Homo sapiens: one gene and its partners. The protein of the gene in region 2 purifies or fractionates together with the protein of the main gene of each other region. This does not show direct contact. Each region holds a gene or a part of one and is shown on either strand. Other genes may lie near its edges. The genes, in order: STK24, MCM6, ATF1, SMC1A, SF3A1, DCTN5 and NCAPH.

The links.
Region 1: the proteins of MCM6 (region 2) and STK24 fractionate together in Homo sapiens (co-fractionation; one large-scale study listed by BioGRID). This does not show direct contact.
Region 3: the proteins of MCM6 (region 2) and ATF1 purify together in Homo sapiens (co-immunoprecipitation; one large-scale study listed by IntAct). This does not show direct contact.
Region 4: the proteins of MCM6 (region 2) and SMC1A purify together in Homo sapiens (affinity purification with western blotting; 2 studies listed by BioGRID and IntAct, with this or other methods). This does not show direct contact.
Region 5: the proteins of MCM6 (region 2) and SF3A1 purify together in Homo sapiens (affinity purification with mass spectrometry; 2 studies listed by BioGRID, with this or other methods). This does not show direct contact.
Region 6: the proteins of MCM6 (region 2) and DCTN5 fractionate together in Homo sapiens (co-fractionation; one large-scale study listed by BioGRID). This does not show direct contact.
Region 7: the proteins of MCM6 (region 2) and NCAPH fractionate together in Homo sapiens (co-fractionation; one large-scale study listed by BioGRID). This does not show direct contact.

Annotation. Positions count from the first base shown.
Region 1 is NC_000013.11:98,458,608-98,462,107, forward strand, and holds part of STK24 (serine/threonine-protein kinase 24 isoform b precursor), read right to left. Parts: intron 3,291-3,500; coding exon 3,167-3,290; intron 1,834-3,166; coding exon 1,765-1,833; intron 1-1,764. UniProt on the Homo sapiens protein: Serine/threonine-protein kinase that acts on both serine and threonine residues and promotes apoptosis in response to stress stimuli and caspase activation.
Region 2 is NC_000002.12:135,845,444-135,848,943, forward strand, and holds part of MCM6 (DNA replication licensing factor MCM6), read right to left. Parts: intron 2,746-3,500; coding exon 2,610-2,745; intron 950-2,609; coding exon 794-949; intron 1-793. UniProt on the Homo sapiens protein: Acts as a component of the MCM2-7 complex (MCM complex) which is the replicative helicase essential for 'once per cell cycle' DNA replication initiation and elongation in eukaryotic cells.
Region 3 is NC_000012.12:50,795,101-50,798,600, reverse strand, and holds part of ATF1 (cyclic AMP-dependent transcription factor ATF-1), read right to left. Parts: intron 2,704-3,500; exon of another isoform or gene 2,693-2,703; coding exon 2,592-2,692; intron 1-2,591.
Region 4 is NC_000023.11:53,398,655-53,402,154, reverse strand, and holds part of SMC1A (structural maintenance of chromosomes protein 1A), read left to right. Parts: intron 1-2,424; coding exon 2,425-2,566; intron 2,567-3,500. UniProt on the Homo sapiens protein: Involved in chromosome cohesion during cell cycle and in DNA repair. Central component of cohesin complex. The cohesin complex is required for the cohesion of sister chromatids after DNA replication.
Region 5 is NC_000022.11:30,350,395-30,353,894, forward strand, and holds part of SF3A1 (splicing factor 3A subunit 1), read right to left. Parts: intron 2,679-3,500; coding exon 2,557-2,678; intron 1-2,556. UniProt on the Homo sapiens protein: Component of the 17S U2 SnRNP complex of the spliceosome, a large ribonucleoprotein complex that removes introns from transcribed pre-mRNAs.
Region 6 is NC_000016.10:23,661,966-23,665,465, forward strand, and holds part of DCTN5 (dynactin subunit 5), read left to right. Parts: intron 1-3,500. UniProt on the Homo sapiens protein: Part of the dynactin complex that activates the molecular motor dynein for ultra-processive transport along microtubules.
Region 7 is NC_000002.12:96,352,766-96,356,265, reverse strand, and holds part of NCAPH (condensin complex subunit 2), read right to left. Parts: intron 2,961-3,500; coding exon 2,869-2,960; intron 2,084-2,868; coding exon 1,878-2,083; intron 1-1,877. UniProt on the Homo sapiens protein: Regulatory subunit of the condensin complex, a complex required for conversion of interphase chromatin into mitotic-like condense chromosomes.

The DNA of each region.
Region 1 (3,500 bases), on a different chromosome or scaffold from region 2:
TTTACAAGTCCCGAGAGGGTCAGCTACAATCCAGCACTCTCCCTCCTGCCCATGCCCCGCCCCTAAGTCTCAAAGAAGGAGCAAAGGCGGCAGAAGGGCCGCCCTGGGAGAGGGCCTGTCCCCTTGCCGTGTGGAACGTGCTGGACCCATCACTGACTTCAGGGAGCAACCTGACCTGTGCTCCCTGAAGGAAAGCAGGGACGCCAACACCCGTCTCCTCAATGTCCTCATCTGTAAGCATGGGGATATAATCCTTCTACTGGGCTTCTACAAGTATTGTATGAAATAATACACAATAAACACTCTGAACTCTAGGGTAGCAAATATCATTCTTAAAAATACATTGGGAAAGATGCCTGTGAGTTTAGCAATTGGTTACCTGGAAAATCCAGGATATGACGGCGTTTAGGATATGTCCTGAATAATTATGTCAAAGTTGCTTCATGGGCCCAGTAAAAAAATAAACAGCCTCAGGAGAATGAAAAAGTCCATGCACTTTCCCTAACTGCCTGACTGACCCTATTCCAGCGGCCAATGGCAGGGCCGCAGGAGCACAGCCTGGAAATCCCACGGGGCCAACTCCCATGGGACAAAATGAAGCGCAGGATGGCGCTCAACCCGGACATCCTAGTTAGGAAGAACACAGGTGCCCAGAACCATGAGCCAGGGCTGAAGCCAGACATCATCCAGCAGGGCCTCCGCGTGCCCTGTGGCTTCCCCGACACCAGCGGGCTCGGCTACTTCCCACTTGAAGCTGCAGGTGAGGCCTCGGGCTCTGGCCACAGCCCTGCTCCCACCGGGCCCTGAACTTGCCAGGTCAGAGGCCCTCAGACAAACCCTCCAGGGCACCTGCTGGGCAGGGCAACAGGTGAAGGCTTATTGGAGGGCTGGGAAGAGGCACTGGCAGGACCGTGGCTGGCCAGGCACGGCCCATGGCCGGGGGTCCCCCGCTGCGTGACGCAGGCACAGGGGAGGAGAATGAGCTCCTATGACACTTCCTCTCCTGAGCACCTCCCCTTCAAGGACCAGGACCCCTAAACACAGCCGCAGTGGAAAACTGCCCAAAGAGGGAAGATCCCCACGCAAACAGATGCGTGTGTGGCCCACAGTGAGTACCTCAAAGGCAGCCTCAGCCAGGAAGGGGCACAACAAGAAAAGAGGGGACTTCCAACTTATTTTCAAATCCGCTACTAACCAGATGCAGAACAATCTTCATTCTTATAAAGCCTACTTTTGAAAATCTCTCAAAACACGGCCACGGGAGCACTTTCCTCTGGGAGGGAGAGGCTGAGCAGGGAGTGGGCGTGGGGAGGCCCAGCTGGGAGCACAGCACTGCTGAGCAGAGGAGGGACTTCAGTGAAACATGTGGCTCAGGGGAAACCGGAGGACTCCAGGGCATCCAACGTCTCCTTAGAAGAAAGAATCTACTTTTCACATGGCCAGAAATTGGTCTGAGGCAAAGAGAGCAGGCTGTACACAATGAGATTTGCTAAAAAGCAGGGCAACGGGTGACACAGGGTCTCGGGCTGGGTCACTGTCATCCAGTCTACACATTCCAGGCTGCGGCGGAGTGGGCATCACCCAGGACAGGGGAGGCGCAAGGTGGTGCTGACAGCCTTTGGGAAGGCACCATGCAGGCTTTCCGAGCCTTTGCCAGCTTGTCTTAATGTCCCCAACTCTTAACTGGCAACATCACCACTGAAGTGTGTCCAGCTTCTCCTTCCCCCTCCCCTCCCACTCCGAAAAGGCCAGCCAGGTACCTACCTCTGCAAACAGAGGAGAAATAATTGTAGATAAACACTGAGAGAAAGGCCTCTTCGGGATGTCTTTCATCTTGGGGGAGAGGGAAAAAAAGGTCATCAGAAACAGTTGACGTTCACATTGGCAATAATTTAATAAACCTCCCACCTGGACTATGGAAGCGCAGGAGTTGCCTCTACACTTCACGCTGAGGAAACACCCTCTGCGCACCATAACATCTGAAGGAGACTATCGGCTGCCTCTCACTAGACTTCAAAGTTTCATCTGCAGTGACATGCAAAACCCACGCACCGGGGAAACCAGCATCTGGGTTCCATGTGGAAGGGGACTCTGTGTGGGCACAGGCGGTGAACTGCCTCGTCTTGCTATCTACGCAGAAGTGCTTTACTGGTTGGGCGTGGTGGCTCATGCCTGTCATTCCAACACTTTGGGAAGCCGAAGCAGGAGGATCACTTGAGCCCAAGAGTTCGAGACCAGCTTGGGCAACATAGTGAGACCATGTTTCTATTAAAAAAAAAAAAAGTTTTAAATAAACTGGGCGTGATGTCACATGCCTGCAATCCCAGTTACTCAGGAGGCTGAGGTGGGAGGATCACTTGAGCCCAGGAGTTTGAGGCTACAGTGAGCTCTGATGGCACCACTGCACTCCAGCCTGGGCAACAGAGACCCCGTCTCAAAAAAAAAAAAGAGAGAGAGAGAGAGAGAGAGAAAAGTACTTTACTAATGAAACCCTGGAAATAGAAATCAGGTCAAGATTGGCCATTCCAATGGCTGTCTAGGACAGAGACCGAGTTTCTACTTTTGCAACCTCTATTTGGACATTTAACACCTGTTCACTTATCAAAGCGGGACTTGTAGGATCAACAGGGGACAGCCACTGGCCCACCCTGCCTGAAAGAAACTACACCACTATGCTTTACAAGACCCTAAATATATGGCCTTTCATAAATTTAACAGGCATAAAACCAATTAATCAAAATTGTTTTACATAAATATCAAAAGCAATGCATTTACTTATAAGGTCCTTAAAACTCAGTCACAAAATTATGATATGTATGTAAGTAACCGCAACATGCACAACAGTCCCTCAGAGCTATGAAGTCATTTCACGGGTCACCCCCAAACCCCATGACATTGCCACATCGGGACATCCTAACTCAACAGCAGGGCTGCAGAGAGCAGAATAGAGTGGCACAAAACAGACCAGAGGCCAGACTCCCTGGTGTGAACACCTGGATCATCAGACAGAACTAAAGCTCTTCATCTGCCCATCCCCTAGCAACAAAATTCCAGGACAGCTGCCACAAAGGACCCCAGCCGCACCCACAGCAAGCTTCACACACAAGTGCCTCCAAAACACTGCAGACTGAGGTCAGCGTGGCCATTCTGGAGTGAGCAGACGTACCTTATTTCTGTCCAAGTCCGATGGCTGAAGAGCTCCATTCTCGAGATTCTTGGGATCTTTTTCTCGGATTGTGAAGATCCAGTCCCCAGAATCACTGCCCCCCGAGGCTTGGCCATCTGTTTCCCTTAACACAGAAATGCAGGAAATCCCATCAGTGCTCGCACACCTGCTCTGGGGGCGCTGGGACGTTCAGGGGGAGGCCGCCTGGGGACCTCTAAACCCACACCCACCAGCCCCAAGTCCCCACCCATCACACCCTTGTCCAGTCCCTCTGGGATTTCCCAAAGACCCCCCCGCCTCCTCCCTCACAGAGAAGAGACCATCGGGAGGTGGT
Region 2 (3,500 bases):
AAAGCTGAGGCGTCCTAGTGGCCACTTTGTTGCCTTCTCTCCTACTGGTCTAAAGTTCCCAGGGGAACAAGGGCAGAAACTACAATCTCTTGTTCTCTTCTTTCATAGCAGAGCAAATACTGTGATGACAAAATATTCCAGAAAGCCAGCACAAGCCATCCTTGGGGCTTTTAATCAAGAATTATCTGATGCTTAACTATCAAGTAGAAGTTTAGGTTCAACATCTTGAATTCATCATTTTTCCTTCTGCTTTGTAGTTAACTATAGGGTGATAAAACTTTGAATAGCATGGTAAAGCAGTTAAGGGTAGGAAGCGTACTAGTGTCCAGACGCCACACTTTACCAATAACTACATGAGGATTTTACTCCATTTCTAGTCTGCAATGGCCTTTTGATAGTATAGATTTCTAGGCTCAATTAATTACTGTTAAAATATACCCTAGGGGTCCAGCTGTTTTAAACAGAACCATTGTAAGGGAATAGTAATTTTGCATTTGTAAAAACATTTGTATGTGCTGCTTCATATGTTATCAGGTCCCAAAATTATTAAAATAGGCCCAGAATGTTAAAAAGAAGGACCTACAAAGCTTTGCCTGACAATAAGCTTGTGAAGAAATGTTCAGGCTGGCAGGTATGCTGATACTCCACAAATTTACTTTGCTAAAGTGAGTTTATCTAACAACTTATCCTCTCTTCCGACAGAACAACACGAAGTTTGGCAATCACAAGTGGCCTATGTGAACAGAGCTTACAGAAGTGACCGAGCATGTAAGCAGTACCAGGTAAGCCTCACCTTCTTCCACCTTTCTGAGGTGAAGCACAATAAGGTTAGAGATTCGGCAGTACTCAGAGAAGCCCAGCCTTAAGGAGGCTTTGGGAGCAGACTCTTGATTTATGTCTTCATTGTAGCCATTGATCCCGTTCACAGGAGCAGGGCTGTCAGCATGACCTAAGTGAAAAATTGACCACCTGAATCTTATTTTTGTGCCCTTAACATCCCCTTGTCAAGCATTTACAAATACACTACTTACATTTAATACTGATTTTTTTCACTTTTAAAAATTATTATTATTATTTGTTTTAGAGACAGGGTCTTGCTATGCTGCCCAGGCTGGTCTCGAACTACCGGACTCAACTGATCCTCCTGTCTTGGTCTCCCAAGTGCTGGGATTACAGGTGTGGGCCACCACATCCAGCCTTAACACTAATTTTAAAACAAGCATACATTCCCACATGATCTCCTCTGCCAAAAAATAAAAATGAAAAACAAAATAAACCGGCTAGGTGCAGTGGCTCACACCTGTAATCCCAGCACTTTGCAAGGCCAAGGGAAGCACATCACCTGAGGTCAGGAGTTTGAGACCAGCCTGGCCAACATGGTGAAATCCTGTCTATACTAAAAATACAAAAATTAGCTGGGTGTGGTGGTGGGTGCCTGTAATCCCAGCTACTCGGAAGCCTGAGGCAGGAGAATTGCTTGAACCCGGGAGGCAAAGGTTGCAGTGAGATGAGATTGCACCATTGTACTCCAGCCTGGGCAACAAAAGCAAAACTCCATCTCAAAAATAAAAAAAAACAAAAAACAAACAAAAAAAAACATGCATACAGTTATACATAGCATATAAGAATTTTCAAATAAATTAGAAGCAAATGTATAAACTCTACTAGTAAAGACAAAAACTAACTTGGGAGGAACGTGAGGGATCAGAGATATAAAGATTTCACAATCTGAAAGTCCACTTGCAGTATTATATACAAAATAAAAAATTCTACCAGTCTGGGCAATATGGCGAGATCCTGTCTCTAGAAAAAATTCTCAAAAAATTAGCCAGGAGTGGTGGCGTGGGCATATGTCCCAGCTATTAGAGAGGATAGGGAGAAGGACTGCTTGAGCCCAGGAAGTTAAGGCTGCAGTGCCATGAGTGTACCAAGGCATTCAAGCCTGGGTGACAGAATGAGACCCCATCTCAAAATAAATAAAATTTCTAGTATTTTTCTGTTCTAATGTGCTTGAAAAAATGTTTTCAATTCAGAAGCAAAACAACAATACAAATAAGGGTAAAACCCAGGGGATTTATGTCTATTATCACCATTTTGCTGCCTTTTCTTTTAGTCTTTCAAATATCTATGTATTTTTTGAGACAGAGTCTCGCTCTGTCACCCAGGCTGGAGTGCAGTGGCACAATCTCAGCTCACTGCAACCTCCGCCTCCCGGGTTCAAGTGATTCTCCTGCCTCAGCCTCCCAGGTAGCTGGGGCTACAGGCAGCCGCCACCACGCCTGGCTAATTTTTGCATTTTTAGTAGAGAAGGGGTTTCACCATATTGGCCAGGGTGGTCTCAAACTCCTGACCTTGTGATCCACCTATCTCAGCCTCCCAAAGTGCTGGAATTATAGGCGAGAGCCACCGTGCCCAGCCAAGTATATATATTTTATATCAACTATTTAATTTCATTTTAACTTGTAAACAGTGAATAGAATTCAGTATCTGCTTTTTCCGTTTTGCTACCATAGACTATTAGCCAACAGCAGGTGTACTTCTACCACATGACATCTCAGAAAATGTTTTGGTCCCTAACTCCAAAACAGTCACATGAACAAGTATCTCACCATTGATGCCACCAGCACCCTCATCTACCTCCATCTGGATCTCTTCCTCTTGATCTAGATTGACATCAGGTGTTTCCACACGGATGATTGATTTATTCAGTAACCGGAAAGCTTCCTTCACATGTTTAGGTTGGACCTAAACCAATAATGATGAAGTAATTAAGCTACTTTTTTTGATATACCAAACAGATTTTCTCCCAATGAAATCACAGTAGTATGTATTTTGGTTTTCTCACAAACACACACACTCTCACAGTGTTGCTTTGGTTTTCTCACAAACACCCTCTCTCATTCTCTCTCTTACACACACAGAAATAGCACTATAAATTCACCAGAATGGCTAAAATGACTGACAATATCAAGTGTTGTCAAGAAGGTAGAACAACTCTCATTCACAGCGGTGAAAACAGAAATTGACACAACTGTTTGGCAGAAAAACATGCATTAACCTATGACCCAACAATTCCACTCCTAGGTATGTACTTGTAGAAATATAAACATATATACATATCATATGAATCCAAAGACATATACATCCCATAAGAACTAGGCCAGGCACGGTGGCTCATGTCTATAATCCCAGCACTTTGGAAGGCAGAGGCAGGCGGATCACCTGAGATTGGGAGTTTGAGACCAGCCTGACCAACATGGAGAAACCCCATCTCTACTAAAAATATAAAAAATTAGCTGGGCATGGTGGCACATGCCTGTAATCCCAGCTACTCAGGAGGCTGAGAAAGAAGAATCGCTTGAACCTGGGAGGCAGAGGTTGCAGTGAGCCGAGATTGTGACACTGCACTCCAGCCTGGGCGACAGAGTGAGACTCCATCTCAAAAACAAAACAAAACAAAAAAACAACCAGCAATGAAACCAGCCAGAAAATGAAATGGA
Region 3 (3,500 bases), on a different chromosome or scaffold from region 2:
ATGGTGACTCACGCCTGTAATCCCAGCACTTTGGGAGGCCAAGGTGGGCAGATCACGAGGTCAGGAGATTGAGACCATCATGGCTAACACAGTGAAACCCCGTCTCTACTAAAAAATACAAAAAATTAGCCAGGTGTGGTGGCGGGCGCCTGTAGTCCCAGCTACTCGGAAGACTGAGGCAGGAGAATGGCATGAACCCAGGAGGCGGAGCTTGCAGTGAGCCGAGATTACTCCACTGCACTCCAGCCTGGATGACAGAGCGAGACTCCATCTCAAAAAAAAAACAACAACCATGAAACTACCCAAATTAATCATTATTACTATTGTTCTAAAAAGCCAATGCTAACTGAAATGAATTGTCTTTGTTCACCATACTTTCTCACATTTATATTCCTTTCATTTTCTTCTTCCTGAAGTATACACTTAAGTAGTTTCTTTTTTCTTTTTTTTTAGAGATGGAGTCTCACTCTGTCACCCAGGCTGGAGTGCAGTGGCACGATCTCAGCTCACTGCAGCCTCCGCCCCCTGGGTTCAAGCTGGGACTACACGCATGTGCCACCATGCCTACCTAATTTTTTTATTTTTAGTAGAGATAGGGTTTCTCCATGTTGGCCAGGCTCGTTTCGAACTCCTGACCTCAAGTGATCCACCCGCCTCGGCCTCCCAAAGTGCTGGGATTACAGGCGTGAGCCACTGTACCCAGCCTCCTTAAGTAGTTTCTTAAATCAGTTTGAAAATGATTATTATTTCACCGTCATTTTTGAAAGACTGTTCAGTAGGCACAGAATTCCAGGTCAAAAGTTACTTTCTCTTTGAATTTAAATATTGGAGCCTGAGTACAGTGGCTCATGCCTGTAATAGCAACACTTTGGGAGGCTGAGGTGGGAGGATCACTTGAGCCCAAGAGTTTGACACCAGCCTGGTCAACATAGTGGGACTCTATCTCTACCAAAAATTAAAAAAAATTAGGTGGGCATCATGGCATATGCCTATAGTCCCAGGTACTCAGGAGGCTGAGGAGCTGACCCCAGGAGGTTGAGGCTGCAGTGAGCTGTGATCACACCACTGCACTCCAGCCCAGGCAACAGGGTGAGACCTCCGTCTCAAAAAAACATGTAATAATTTAAAGATAAAAATAAGGATTTTAGTTCATTGTCTTATACTGTACTTCAAAAATCTGTTGTCAGCTTACTGGTCCTTCCTTTCTAGGTAATTGGTCTTTTCACTTGGAAGCTTTTAGCTTTTAAGATCTCAGGTTTATCCTTGGTGTTCTCCAGTTTTACTTTACAACATACACCTAGATGTAGGTTTCTATTAATTTATCTTGTTTGGGACCTTGCTTTCTTATGCTGAGAAATTCATATCCTGGAAATTGCAGTCATTATCATTTTCTCTCCTGGAGAGACTAGAAGCTGGAAGTGCCCTTCCCTCTTCTCTCCTTTTATCTATGTATGTTGTGTACTGGACCTTCTCATTCTGTGTTCTATCTTAACTTTGTCTTTCTGTGTTCCATTCTAGGTAATCTACTCAGAGCTGTATCCTCAGGTTCTCTCATTTTGTCTTCAGTTACGGGTATTAACCCCTTATCAGATAAGTGGTTTGCAAATAATTTTTTCCCAGTCCGTAAGTTGCCTTTTCATTTTGTTGCTTTGTTTCCTTTGCTACACAGACACGTTTTTTAGTTTGACGTAGTCCCATTTATTTATTTTTTTGTAGCCTAAGCTTTTGGTGTGATATCCAAAAAATCATTGCCAAGGTCAATGTCGAAGAGCTTATCGCCTATGTTCTCTTCTAGGATTTTTATGGTTTCAGGTCTTAACATTTAGGTCTCTTATCCATTTGGTGTTGATTTGTGTAATGGTGTAAGATAAAGATTAAATTTACATTTTTTTTTTTTTTTGAGACAGAGTCTTGCTCTGTTGCCCAGGCTGCAGTGCAGTGGCACAATCTCGGCTCACTGCAACCTCCGCCTCCCAGGTTCAAGTGATTCTCCTGCCTCAGCCTCCCAAGTAGCTGGGATTACAGGTGTGCACTACCACACCCGGCTAATTTTTCTATTTTTATTAGAGACGGGGTTTCACCATGTTGGCCAGGCTGGTCTCAAACTCCTAACCTCAGGTGATCTGCCCGCCTCAGCCTCCCAAAGTGCTGGGATTACAGGCATAAGCCACTGCATCCGGCCAAAGGTCCAATTTCATTTTTTCTTGGAGACAGGATCTTGCTCTATCACCCAGGCTGGAGCACAGTGACACAATCACAGATCATTGTAACTTCAAACTCCTGGGCTCAAGCCATCTTCCCGCCTTAGCCTCTAAGTAGATGGGACTACAGGCGTGCGCCACTATGTCCAGCTAAGGTTTGTATTTTTTGAAGAGACAGGGTCTTGCCATGTTGCCCAGGCTGGTCTTGAACTCCTGGGCTCAAGCAATCCTACCTCGGCCTCCGAAAGGGTTGGGATTATAGGCGAGGGCCAACCAATTTCATTCTTAACACTGACGCGTGCTAACTTCTTTAGTGTACTTTGCACAGCACCTCTTGAACTCATTTGGTACTATCATAACATGCAGGGCTTCATACAAGAGAGTACTCACCTGTAAGATGGGCGCCGTGCTAGGATCCCGTGGGCTTTCTGTGAGGAGCCTATGCTGTCGGATGAGTCCTGGGACTCCTCACTTTCTGATAAAGATGATACCTAAAAAAGAACTGGCATTAACATGATGAACAATGCAGGTGGGAAAAGAAACAACTGAATTTTTACTTTTAGAAAAAAATGATCTGTCTCCTGCCACTCCAATTCATTTGTACATTAAATCTAAAGTCTAAAAGAAAGGAACAAAAGGAAAAGGAAAAATGAGAAAGTTTATTCCAGGAGCCCAACCTATTAAAGGAATATCAAATATAGCAGGCCCAGAGCTGAGAATAAAGTCTGTCCCCCAAATGAAGCAGTACTATTTTACCAGAGTTAAAAAGACCAGGCTCTGATGTCATTCTCCACCCTATTTCTACACTGATGCACATTACTTAAAAGTGTTGTTTTATTACTAATCTACCTGACATGCTAAGTTTGAAAAACCTGTTATATATTCAACTGCTGACATTGAGACGAATATTAAATATACAAGCCTGTAGGTCTGGGAAGAGGTCTGGGCTAGATACATAAATTTTGGAGGTCTAGCTTTTTAGAGTCCTTAAAGCCATGAGACTGGATGAGCTCATAGGGGTAAATAGAAGAGGACTGAGGACTAACCTCAGGAACACTAAGAGACTGGATGAAGAGGAGGAACCAGCAAATGAGACTAAGGAGTCACCAGTAAAGAAGAGAACCAAATGATTGAGCTGTCCATGGAAAACTAGTGAAGACAGCATACTGAGGAGAAAAGAATGATCAACCATGTCCAATGCTGTTTACAAGCTGAGATAAAATAAAGACTGAGAACAGACCATTCGATTTAGCAAGGTGGAGGTCACTGGCAATGGCAGGTATAAATATATGCCATTTT
Region 4 (3,500 bases), on a different chromosome or scaffold from region 2:
GGATATAGAATTGAATCAGACTGTATTTCTTTCCTCAGGAAACATATAGAGTACTGGGGGAAACATCAATTTGAGGACAGTGTGATCAATGGTGTAATTAAGGTAGATACAAAATACTGAAGAAATTTTCAAGGAACTGCAAATCAACAACAGGAAAAATAAAAAACAATGACAAGAAACCCAATGGAAATGTGGCTAAGTACTTATGATACCCAATGCAATGAAAAAAGTAAAAAAAAAAAAAGTGGCAAATAATATAGATAGGCTTTCATGGAAAGAGAAGTTCAAGTGGCTAATGACCATAGGAATTGAGGTCTAACCTCTTAATCAGAGAAATGCAAATTTAAAAGTCTGACAGTATTAGGTGGAAATCTATAGATGTCCTGTGTAGTATGTGAAAAAAATATATGTGTATATATATAATGTATATATATACACATATATAAAACCTATGGGTATATATCCCTGAGAGAGTCTTGCCATAGGGTCCCAAAGAGATACACATTCAGTGTCATTCATCTTGGCATAACTTGTAGTAGTGGGACATTGGTGGCAATGTAGATGGCCATTACTGGGGGAGCATAAGTCAAATGAATATATAGACTGGAATACTGTGTGGGAGTTCACAGCAAGAACTAGATTTGTGGGCAGTAATGGATAACTTATAAACCTGGTATTGACCAGAAAAAAGAATAAAATTTATAACACAGTAGATTTGTGTAAATTTTAGAACTAAGACATTTTACAAGGATATGCATTTTTAAGGAATGCATGTGTGTATGTCACTTTGTGGTGCATGTTCACAGTAGGGAAGGTAATGGGAATGGAAATTGGGGATTGAAACAAAGAGGACAAGGGAAGGGTCTTGCCCAGGCAGTGGTGATAAGTGTGTTATGAACTGTGGGATATGATTAACTTGCTTCTGCACCTAAAGTCTAAAAAGGGAGGAACCCAACAAAGTGTAATAGAAACTAGGAACCTGCTCAGAACCGTCAGGAAAGGTTTTACAAAACAGGGAGTGATGACTGGAGACCTGAAGAGTGAGTAGGATTTAGCCAGCCAGGCAGCGACAGAAAAAGTGAATTCCAAGCAGAGAGAACAGCATGCTTGGAAGTGTGAGAGAGCATGCCTTGTTCTGGATACTAAGTAGTTTTTAATGTCTGGAGCATAAAAGCAGGGTCAGGAAGAAGGTGGGGAGTGGTGGAGAGGTCAGCAGGGGCCGGATCACAGAGGCCTTTGTGAGTCATACTTAGGAGATTGGATATAAAATTGCATAGCTCAAAATTATAGAGTTAGTTATATTTCATTTGGATTATAGTGGCTAATAGGTTTAAGCTGCTAGCATGACATCTGGCAACATCTGTCACACCATATTGGGAGTTGGAGAGGGCAATTGGAAGTTAGTCCTGCCTGGCCTGCCAGTGCCTGTGTATGCTGGTTGCATACTCTTGAGTTTCTGAAGAGATGGAGAGGAGGACAATAGCAGGAATCCAGTATTTTCTCCATGTTTTTGTACTATCCAAGTTCTGCCCTTTAAGAGGTTCTGGGACCTTGGGGCAGAAGTTGGGATGCTGTAGTTGAAGCCCTTGGACAAAAGTAAGCTGAGTACAGTCAATATACCTGGTGATAATGGTAACTAAAATTGATTGAGTAGTTATCGTGGACTCGGTGTGGTTCTAAGGACTTTATACATATTAACTCATTTAAAAATCTCCCAATAACCCTGAGGTAGGTACTATTATTATGTTCATTTTGCAGATGGGGAAACAGGTCTGGAGAGTATAACCAACTTGCCTGAATGACATTACTAGTAAGTGGCAGAGTTGAGATGCCAGTCTTCTTAATCCACTACATTATGTTGCAGTGGTGGTATACTAGAAAGAGCCCGGGTTTTGGTGTTAAATCTGGGTTTCAGTCTCACATGTGCCATTTACTAGCTGTGTGGCCTTGGGCAAGGTCTTTTACCTCTTGGCCTAAGTTTTCCTCATTTGTAAAATTAGGATAATAATGCCTACTTGCAGAGCTGTTGATTAGAGGATTAGAGATAATGTATGTAAAGTACATAGAAGCCTAATAGGAATTACCATAGCTGGTAGAATCAGATGGACTCTTTTATGCCTCCTTGTAGGAACTTGGAGGGCGCTGGGGTCTTCATTGTTTAAAGGGGGATAAATAAGGTTTGGCCGAATCTTCCCTGCCTTATGCCATGTCCACAGGGCTAGGCTGAGGAACTTAGTTCTTCAGCTTCAGGGGACCGTTTTATGTGCATATGGATGGATGAAGCAAGTTGTGACTGAAAATCAGTAACTCTGGGTCCCTGAGCCCTGGGTCTAGTTTCCCTTTCTTCCCATAGTTGGATTTTGTACATTGGTTATCTCTGGCTGATGAGATTATGAGTGATTCTCCCCCCACCTTTATACACAGTTTGGAGTTTGAGAATCAGAAGACTCGCTTGGGCATTCAGTTGGATTTTGAAAAGAACCAACTGAAGGAGGACCAAGATAAAGTACACATGTGGGAGCAGACAGTGAAAAAAGATGAAAATGAGATAGAAAAGCTCAAAAAGGTAAGGAAGGAAAGAATTAAAAGACAGACTAATAACTGGGAGGAAAAATGGGAAGAAATACGACAGACAGAAGGATAATGTCCACAACTTAGAAATTTCTCATCTAAATCAATAAGAAAAATACCAAGACCTAAACGGGAAAAATGGATAAATGTCACAAACAGTTCAAGAAGACTTTCAAATAGTCCCTAAACACATACAAATAATTTAGTCTTACTAAAGAAATGCAAATTAAAGCAACAATTAGATACAATGTATTTTGTAACACATCGTGGAAAATGTAAAAACAGAAGACACAATGCTCAATACCAGCCATGGTATAGGAGACCAGTATTCTTTTTTTCTTTTTTTGAGATGGAGTCTTGCTCTGTTGCCCAGGCTGGAGTGCAGTGGCACTATCTTAGCTCACTGCAACCTCCGCCTCCCGGGTTCATGCCATTCTCCTGCCTCAGCCTCCCAAGCAGCTGGGACTACAGGTGCCTGCCACCACGCCCAGCTAATTTTTGTATTTTTAGTAGAGACGGGGTTTCACCATATTGGCCAGGCTGGTCTCGAACTCCTGACCTCATGATCCACCTGCCTCGGCCTCCCAAAGTGCTGGGATTACAAGCATGAGCCACCGTGCCTGGCCAGGAGACGAGTATTCTTATGTAATGTGGCACCATCCTTCAAGAAGCTTCACAATGCATTTATACTCTGTAACTCAGTAGTACCTGAGGAGATCATCCAAAATGCTGGCAAAGCTTTATGCAAACACTTTGATGTTTATAACAAGCATTATTTATAGTTCCAAATTGGAAACTACTCAGTGCCCCTTGGAAAGTGGGAATTTAGCAAATCATGCTACGTTTGTAACATTATTTATGTAGTGTCTTCAAACTTTAGTAATACACAGACCCTTTTTAAAGGAAAAATAGTCCCTAAGATTGCCAGT
Region 5 (3,500 bases), on a different chromosome or scaffold from region 2:
TAACTTGAGCCCAGGAGTTCAAGGCTGCAGTGAGCTGTTATCATGCCACTGCACTCCTGCCTGCGTGTCAGAACGAGACTCTGTCTCTAAAAAAGAAATGTTGGAAACCTCCTCCTCTAAGGAAAATACAGAAATGGTGGCCAAGTCAAGGAAAGCCTTTCACCTCTACATGGTGCATCCCCTTAATAAAGGACCACAGGGCATTATGAAGACCATGGAGCAAAATGGAAAAATGCTTACAACACAGAGTGGAATATCTTTACTAGTATTACAAGGATCTAAAAAAAGGATTCCAAGGACAGAAGGAAACAGAAAAATGTGAAAACAGCTGGTAGACACTACTCTGGTAATGAGAATATGGTGATTCTTCACCCAACTCCCCTTTTCTGTATATTCTGTTTTTAAAGTATCAGGGGAAAAGGGGAGGCATGAACACTGCTAAGAGCCATTAAACATTTATCTTAAACACAACACTGTCTAAATCTGACATGACCCAATCAACATCATCACAATGTTCAATCAAGCACAGAGAAGCTTTCAACCTAATACTCAAAGGTAATCAAAGCCCTTGAAATGTAATGAGATGAATCTGCAGAGCTGACATAGTGAAAGTCTAACCAAAGTAGGCTGGTGCCGTGGCTCACGCCTGTAATCCCAGCACTTTGGGAGGCCCAGGTCGGGGGATCATTAAGTCAAGAGACTGAGACCAGCCTGGCCAACACGGTGAAACCACGTCTCTACTAAAAATACAAAAATTACCTGGGCGTGGTGGCGCACGCCTGTTGTCCCAGCTACTCGGGAGGCTGAGGCAGGAGAATCACTTGAACCCAGGAGGCAGAGGTTGCAGTGAGTTGAGACTGCACCACTGCACTCCAGCCTGGCAACAGAGTGAGACTCCATGTCATTTAAAAAAAAAAAAAAGAAAGTCTAACCAAAGTAATCTTTATGTCTAATTTTATTAGGTTGGGAAAGGAAGGACCATCCGTTAAATGATGCATACTGACTGAGACACTGCCTCAGGGGGGTGACGTGGTCCCTGGAGAACACATGCTGATTGGGCCTGCTTCCACACATGAAGGAACTGTCCAGAAATCCAGACTGATTGTGAAATCTCATTTTTACTTGTTTTGTTTTTTTTGAGACAGGGTCTCACTGTCACCCAGGCTAGAGTCCATGGCTCACTATAGCTTCAACCTTCTGGGCCCAACCGATCCTCTTGCCTCAGCCTCCTAAGTAGCTGGGATCACAGGCCCATGCCACCACAGCCAGATAACTTTTTATTTTTTGTAGACAGGGTCTCACTATGTTGCCCAGGCTAGTCTCAAATTCCTGAGTTCAAGTGATCTTCCCACCTTGGGCTCCCAAAGTGCTAGGATTACAAGCAAGAGCCACAGCACCTGACCTCCTCATTTTTAAATAGTAGCAACAAATTTGAGTTTCGAAAAAATTACTGTGAGGACAAACAAAACATCTGTAGGCTGGACATGGACTGAGGGCTGCCAAAGGAATACCTTAAATACCCTAGAGAATGTACTGACCTTTGGAGTCAAGGGGCCAGTAAAAAAATTCCATCTAAGGATGTGAGGGTAAGTACAGTGGGGAGAGACAGGGGGAACTCGGAGCAATTCCCATTCCATCTGAGGTGGCGGCTAGCACCTGCGTGGAACTGTGGGGAGAGACAGGAGGAACCCGGAGCAATTCCCATTCCATCTGAGGTGGCGGCTAGCACCTGCATGGAACTGTAGGAAGAGAGAGGATCTCTGACCAATGCCCATTCCATCTGAGAAGCCAGCTAGCACCTGCACAGGACTGTGGGGAGAGACAGGAGGAACTCAGAGCAATACCCATTCCATCTGAGGAGACGGCTAGCACCTGCATGGAACTGTGGGGAGAGAGAGGATCTCTGACCAATGCCCATTCCATCTGAGAAGCCAGCTAGCACCTGCACAGAACTGTGGGGAGAGACAGGAGGAACTCGGAACAATGCCCATTCTATCTGAGGTGGCGGCTAGCACCTGCATGGAACTGTGAGGAGAGACAGGAGGAACTCGGAGCAATGCCCATGCCATCTGAGGAGGTGACTAGCACCCGCGTGGAACTGAACTGCATGCAGCCCCATGACCTCACTCCCGCCTCACAACAACTCTGAGATGGCATTTTTTCCATTTTGCAGATGGGTCATTTGAGGCTCTTGGAATGTGGTCTTTGTACAATGAGAATAATAAACTCCCCTTTTTATCTTCCTCAGGCCAGCAGCTCAGGCACAGACACACACCATCTGTGATGAAGCAGCTTTCCAGGCATTTCCTCAGGCCAGTTTTAGAAGCAGAGGCTCCTGGTGACTGTGGGGCTAAGTGTGATTCTCACTTTGGCCACTGCTATGCTGTGTCAGGGACACCAGTCCTACCTATTGCCTACCCCAGTGCCATGTTGTGGTTTTTTATGAACTAAAAGGCCCAAGCCAACAACGTCTCTTTAAAAACCCTTGTGCTGATTCAGTGCTGAAGTCTCTTCATGCTGAAACCCACCTCTGACCCACCCAAGTAGCTCTGTTACCTGGCCACAAAGCTGGCAGTCTTGTCAACAATATTTCTGACCTCTGGAGGAGGGTAAATAATCCCCACAACTGGCTTAGAAGGTGCAGAATCCTCCTTTGAAGATGCTTCTTCTTCTGTGGGCTGTGCAAACAGGAAAAGAAATAAGGTTTTAAAGTCCCTGGTTCAGAGCAGGTTCTCCACTGTAAAACTCCTCTAGGATATCATTCAGAGTAGACTTTCATTCACAGACTTCCCTCAGGTTAGAACCCTCTACTTCAGAAAAGCAGTTCTCTTAAGTTCACTGCACCTGCAGGGGCTGCTCCTGGGGACCCAGGGAGAAGAGCAGCTTCCCTGGCTCCTCTCTCACTGGACTATCTCAGTGAGACCAGGAATCTGCATTTTTACTATGGTATGAGACCAGCACTTCTCCTGTTGTCCTTCCCAGTTTCTCCCCAACCTCCCCTTTTCCCTAGTTTATAAGACAGGAGAAAAGGGAGAAAGCAAAAAGTTGGAAAGAAACAGAAGTAAGATAAATAGCTAGACGACCTTGGTGCCACCACCTGGCCCTGGTGGTTAAAATAATAATAATATTAACCCCTGACCAAAACTACTGGTGTTATCTGTAAATTCCAGACATTGTATGAGAAAGCACTGTAAAACTTTTTGTTCTGTTAGCTGATGTATGTAGCCCCCAGTCACGTTCCTCACGCTTACTTGATCTATTATGACTCTTTCACATAGACCTTTAGAGTTGTAAGCCCTTTAAAGGGCTAGGAATTTCTTTTTCGGGGAGCTCGGCTCTTAAGACACGAGTCTGCCGACGCTCCCGGATGAATAAAAAACCTCTTCCTTCTTTAATCCGGTGTCTGAGGAGTTTTGTCTGCGACTCGTCCTGCTACATTACCAAATGCCCAGGTGATTCAGATGCAGGGACTCCGACTACATTCTGAGAAACCATGTTCC
Region 6 (3,500 bases), on a different chromosome or scaffold from region 2:
AGCACTTTGCGAGGCCAAGGCAGGAGGATCCCTTGAGCCCAGGAGTTCAAGACCAGCCTGGGCAACAAAGCAAGACCCTTTCTCTTAAAAAAAAAAAAAACCCAAAAGTTAAGGGATTTGATAGGGCTAGAAAGCAGTAGACCTGGGATTTAAACCCAGGCAATATGATTATTAGCCATGCTGCTATATGGCCTACTTATTGCCTTACTTCACGGAGCTTACAGTCTAATGGGAGTAAGGAAATCTGAAGGGTGAGTTGAAACTGGGGGAAGACAGGCATTTCAGGAAAGAGATTCACATGCGTAAGGAAGGGTTCAAGTCATCAAAGGGCATTTACATGTAATTCAGGGTGCAAGCGGGCCCCTTGCTCAGCAGAATCTGTAGGACCCTGGTCCATTGGAGCCTAGGAATAGGTTGATTTAACCCAACCAAGGCTTAACAAGGTTGGATTTCCTGTGATTTCTTAGATGATGAGCTTGATTTCAGTTGGGATTTATGAGAACCATGTTTAGGGAAAGTGTTTTCTGCATTTTAGATTTGTACTCCAGACTAGATTCTAGGAAAAGCCAAGACTCTGTTTCTTTAATGACCATTCCCGTTAATATGGAGCCAGCTCTCTGCCCTGGATAAGACTCAGACCCTGAAATATCAAAAAACTTGCAGAAACCAAACAGTTCACATTCCAGGAGCTATGAGGGTACAGCAAAGGTGGACAGAAAGTCTTTGGGACAAGGGGAAAGTTAGTAAAGTTCATCTCTCCCCTCACCCTAATTGCTTGACAAAAGCTAGCCTTCCAGCTGGGGGTTTCTGATATTTTCCTTAGCAAAGTGAAGATATCACCCCAGTAGCCTAGTCATATAACCCTGTCGTTTATCCTCAGAGCGAAATGTCTGAAAGGTTGAATCCAAATTCTATTCCCAGTGCTTAGGAAATTCTAATCCTATTGTCAGGTGCTCTTGTTTTTATGCCACTTTTTAATACATCACTTCATGATATAGTCATTGTTCCATATTGGCGGTACTCGCTGAGCCTTGACAAATACTCGATCTCAGGAGAGATTCTTTTAGAATTCTAGAATCTCAGCACTGGAAGTAACTCTTTTAGTCCAGCCGTCCCCATGACACATAGCTCCTTCCTATAACATCCCATGTGATAGTCTTAATTTCCGTTTGGATATGTGAAGATGTAGGTGTTCATCAGAATTGCTCAGATGCCTGAAGGAAAAGCTTAACAAGCAATATTTATAGGCACTGTTACTGTACTATGAGTTTTACATTTATTCTCTCTATTCTTGACAACCTCCCTGCAGATTTGGTTTTCCATCCTGTTTCATAGATGAGGAAACCAAGGCTCCAAGATGCTAACTTACTTGCACAGGATATATAGGTAGCTGTAGTATTAGCAGCACGGCTGCAGTTGTTAACTCCTTGGAAAGCTCTCTAGGGAAGAATAAAGAAGTAGTTTCAGGCCAGGCGCAGTGGCTCATGCCTGTAATCCCAGCACTTTGGGAGGCCGAGGCAGGAGGATCACTTGAGGCCAGGAGTTTAAGACCAGCCTGGCCAACATGGTGAAACCCCGTCTCTACTAAAAATACAAAAAAATTAACTGGGCATGGTAGCACATGCCTGTAATCCCAGCTACTTGGGAGGCTGAAACAGGAGAATCGCTTGAACCCAGGAGGTGGAGGTTGCAGTGAGCCGAGATCGCGCCACTGCACTCCAGCCTGGGCAACAGAGTGAGACTCTGTCCCCCGCCACCAAAAAAAAAAGAAGTTTCAGCTTTTACCTCCTCAGCTATTACCAGTACATTCATGCCTAAGAAATACCTACATTTTAAATGTTTAATTTGATTGATCAGTCTACCCAGACAGCTTCTGAAACCCAGTTAAGTATTATTTCTCTAAGTGGGCAAAATGGCCAACCAGTGGACAGAGCAGGTGCCTTCAGGCTGCATGGTGGCTGGTATACACAGTGAAAATATCCCATCAGCTAGTCTTCTTTTCCAGGGCCCTTTGTCTGTGGATCCCTCCATGGGACTATATCATGCCTTATGTAGCACATTGGGTGTCCTTTTACTCAGTGCCTCATGAACTTAGTCTGAGTTAGTAGGAGCTTAGTCATGACAGGAATTCTTAGGGTTTATGTTAATTTGAGGTCACCAGGGAAGATAGTTGCCCTATTTTTGAAATTGCCACTAGCAGGTAACCCACGGAAGATAACTTTACAAGGAAGAACGAAGAACTATAGTCATAATGTGCTTTTGAGCTAAAGATGTTGCTGAGTATTCTCATAGCTGTTATCCACCTAGCTGGAGAGAGATCAGCCACTTGGGAAATTCAGAGCCACTTAGGAAATTCACATGCTTTCATAAGAAGTTCATTTAGCAATCTACCTTTTCCTAGAAAAACATATGATTTAAGTGTTTAATAATGGGGAAAAATTTAAACACAAGCAAATCAATCATGTTCTTTGCTAAAATCTGAGGTCTGGACTGGTTAGCATTGTCCTGGTATTTGTAAAGATTTCCACATTCTCAGTCAGGTATATTTTCTGATTGTCTAGCCAGGATACCAGTGAACTAACAGGCCCTGATGTAAATGCAGTCAGAATGATCAAAACTTTCATTTCCTCAGCAAGGAGTCTAAGATACAGCTGTAAACTGTACACAGAAGCCCCATGAAACAGATGAGTCTCTCAGACCTTATTTCTTGCTCTCTGAATGCCGTGGATCATGGCAGAATTGAAAAGTGGTGACAGTGGTTAAAGTCAGGGATGAGGTTCAAACATCTACATGACTATCACTCACCAGTGGGAGAACAAATGAACTAATAGCTTCATATCCAAATGAATTTTTCAGGGTTTTTCCAGTTTGAATTGACAAAAGAGCAAACCAACCAACCAACCTTAAGCTGGTGGATGTGGAGTGGAATGGGTGGTGAATATAAACCAAGAGTACAGGAGTAGATCTTAATGTCACGGCCAAATGGCTCCAGGCATTCAGCCCATGTTGTAAGAATTAGTCTCCATCTCTGTGCTGCTTTCCTCTGGGAGGTTCACTCCCAGGCAGGTTCTTCCTTCATGGAAATAAGATGCCTATTCCAGTCTTCCAGCCTATCCTCTGGAAACCCCAGTGGGAAGTGCTGCTTTCCCCAGTAGTCCCAGCAAAAGCCCTGAGGTTGGGGTCCATCAGACTAATTGGGGTCATATGCTGACCTGTTATTGTTTCCAGGCTTGGGGTTTGGTGTGTGGGCTGGGGGGTGAAGCACATGGATGAGATGGGGATGGGAGGGTTACCGAGGAAAATACAGGTTCTGTTACCAGAAGAAAGGGGAATGGATGCTGGACAAGCAAAAGCACAAATGTCCACTAAATCAAAGGGAAAATTCAACAGAGCTCATGGAAGACTGAAATTCAGTCTGTAATGTCTGAGACAGTTTGTCCTGCCTCTAGCATACAGCCTTCCCCCCGAAATGTACACAAACACACACTCTCACAACCTTG
Region 7 (3,500 bases), about 39 Mb from region 2:
AGCGATGTGGCAAGGGGAGGGGATTTAAGGATGGGTAAAATCTGAGACTAGAACTGCAGCCTCCCACGCCTAATGTACTAGGTAGGATAGAGTCTAAGATTTTGTGCTGTTTGGAATAGGGGAGAGAAGTGGAGACATTTGTTCAAAATAACCAGCAGAAAACATCTTCCAGAAACCAAATAAAAGTCATGGAAGCCCTTTGTTATTGTCAGTCCCTCAGATGTCACCTCACTGTTTAAGGAAAGTGATAGCTTTTCTCTGACATTTGAAAATGATGTTTTTAAGAGTTCATCCCATCAACCTATCATTTCTCCCTTCTTAGAAGACAGGATGGCCAGGCGCAGTGGCTCACGCCTGTAATCCCAGCACTTTGGGAGGCCGAGGTGGGAGGATCATGAGGTCAGGAGATCGAGACCATCCTGGCTAACATGGTGAAACCCCGTCTCTAATAAAAAAATTAGTCAGGCATGGTGGCGGGCGCCTGTAGTCCCAGCTACTCGGGAGGCTAAGGCAGGAGAATGGTGTGAACCCGGGAGGCAGAGCTTGCAGTGAGCAGAGATCGCGCTGCTGCACTCCAGCCTGGGCGACAGACCGAGACTCTGTCTCAAAAAAAAAAAAAACAAAAAAACATAAAAACAAAAAAGACACGATGAGAATGGGGCAAAATTGCAGCCATGTGAACAGTACAATTCCGGAGAGCAGGGTGCTACTGAGCCTGGATGGGCAGTGGCGCCTTGATAATGTCTTTAAAAGACATTATCAGCCTAATCGTTTCCCACAAGGGCAGACAAAATGAGCTTAGGAAAGACATCCGAGCAGGGTCTTGAAGAGATTTTTGTCATAGCGGGAAATTATACTAAGCAACTTCTAAGGTTTTACTCAAAACCAGCTTGGCTGTCCCCAATCCCAGTTCTGCAAAGCTCTGTTACAGACATAGGAGTTAACAGAGGGACTGTTCACTCTAATCTCATGAAATCTCCTACCCCCAGGCCCATTGAAGACCTTTACAGGACCATGACATTAAAGTGTTGTGAGACCCTGCTTCCAAATCATATTTAGAATTAAAACAATACTAACCTATTAAGTACATAAAGGCCAACCAAGTTCTGATTATTTTTATGATGTTTACTAGGGTAATCAAAAATTTAATTACTAAACCAATTCTTCTTCTTCTCCTCCAAATATTCTCAATTTATTGGTTGGTTTTGTTTTCCCTGCCTTGCTCGTCCCCAGTCTGCCCATCTGGTAACCCAACACTGCCTAACCCCCACTTGCTTACCTTTCAGGTGGTAAATTGGTGGCTTAGAGTCACCAACAGCCACACTATAAGCAATGTGTACAAAGGGAGCATGCTCTCTGCTACCAAAATGCACGTGGTAACAACAGCCACATTGACGTAATTACTAGATCCCAGGTGCTTTGTTCCAAACGCTTTACATTGTTCTAATCCTTACAAACTCTTGCAATGTCAGTTTTATAACCAAAGTGGCTAAGCCGACATTCAAAGCCAGGTGTGATTCCTCTGAGTCAGAAAGGCTCAGCTGAAAAGCTCAGCTGATGTGTATGACACAGCACACCAGCCCAGCCAATCAGACATCAAATTCAATCACCCCAGCAGGAAATCTGTTAAGAACTGATAGTGCCCAGGCATGGTGGCTCACACCTGAAATCCTGGCACCTTGGGAGGCCAAAGCAGGAGGATTGCTTGAGCCCCAAGAGTTCAAGACCAGCCTGGGCAATGCAGTGAGATGCCCGTCTCTATTTTTGGGGGGGGAAAAAAAAAGAAAGAAAAATTTTTTAATTAGAAAAAAAAGAAAAAGAAAAAAGAACCAATGGAAAACTCCTATAGAAACACTTTCGGACTCTGAGAGCCTTACTGGCAGCTCTGAACCTGGCAGGGCTCCTTCCAGCTCCTGAACTCTTCATGATCCCCAACTGCGGTGTGGTCAGGTTCATCGTTGGCATCAAAGTCATCCCCCAGGGACCCATCGGGGAAGTCTCCACAGTCACTCTCGTCAACTTCAGCATTGATGTCAAATACCTGGTCATTCTTCTTAAACTTGTCTACCAGGGCCGACACAGACTGGAGGGACAAAAGAGGGTTCTGTAATTCTCATTCCTATAACCACCCCAAATCACCACTGGAGGGACAGCCTTCTCACCCTTAAATTTCAGTTTCCAGCCTCCTCCTTCCCCTGAGCCACCCTTCCCTTTCCCATCCCCTGCCTGCCTGGGCCAAGACTCTCACGATAGTACAGTGAGGGGGAAGTTTATATTGTGCAGCACAGGAGGAAGCTGCATTGTTGTCAGGCACATTTTGTAAAACATGAAACAGGATTCTGTACCCATTAACTACATGTTTGCAGAAAACAGTTTTCCATGGAGATCATTTATTTTGGAAATTGTAGTAAGTAGGCTAAAGGGGGCCATGCTAAAAATACACAGAGGAAAGCTCTACACATGACAATTTCTCAGGAAACTCTGTGCCAAGGGATTCAACCCCAAAGAGCAGGAAATTCCTCAAGCTTGACGGCAGCCTAAGAGATTCGAGGCCACTGGGATAACCACATTCAAGAGTAAATCTAATTATAAATGTTCACTGATTAATGCCAGGGCCGCCTTACCCTAGGATAGCAGAAGAGAGGACATAAAGCTGATCCTGGAACTCACTTACCTCTAGAATAGTCCTGCTGGGGTTCACAACCCTACCCTCCTCCCTCAGGGTTTTTGTCCCTACAGAAGTGCCAAAGGAAATATTTTCTGTACTCCTGGCTAAATAAAGATGATGCCACAGTTTTGGTTCCCATTGGGCAGGACCACTCTTGAGCCAACTAACTGAAACCATGAGCCACTAAAACTTGACCACACCTCATTATGTGTTTCACTGTCCCACTGTGTAAACTGGAACCCGGCCAGGGAAGGGCAGATCTGGCGATCTTCTGCACACTGCTGCAAGGGCGCTGGAGAGGATAGCAAGATCACAAAGAGAGATTAGAAGGGGGTCAAGTGCATTCCTTACTCCCTTCAGAATGATACTGAGTGGGACGAGAGATGAGAGGCACAGTTACCTCACTGTCCTCCAGCAAAGGCTCAAGTATCATCAGTGGCTGGCTAGCTGCCAGTCTGTGTCCCTGCCTCTTCTGGGAGCGAGCAGATGCGTCGGCCACACCCACGCTGGAGTGAGGCTATGCACTGTCATCGCACAAATTAGTAAAATACTAGAGGAGAAACCTAAAGCACAGACATTCGATTCTGAAATGAATTCTGTGACCTATGCTATAGCTGGGAAATCAAACGCTTCGTCTTAAAAATACACCAAGTACATAGGCAATCATGTAATGGTACTTTAACTTATTTTTAGTCCCAAACTAGAGAAGACTTACTTCAGGGGATTAGAGCCCCAAATGAGAGCACAAACTTGGAAAATAGATCGTTAGCACAAAAACTATACTAAACAAAATTGAGGCAAGAATAGAAATGACAAGAATGGGAGCTAACAA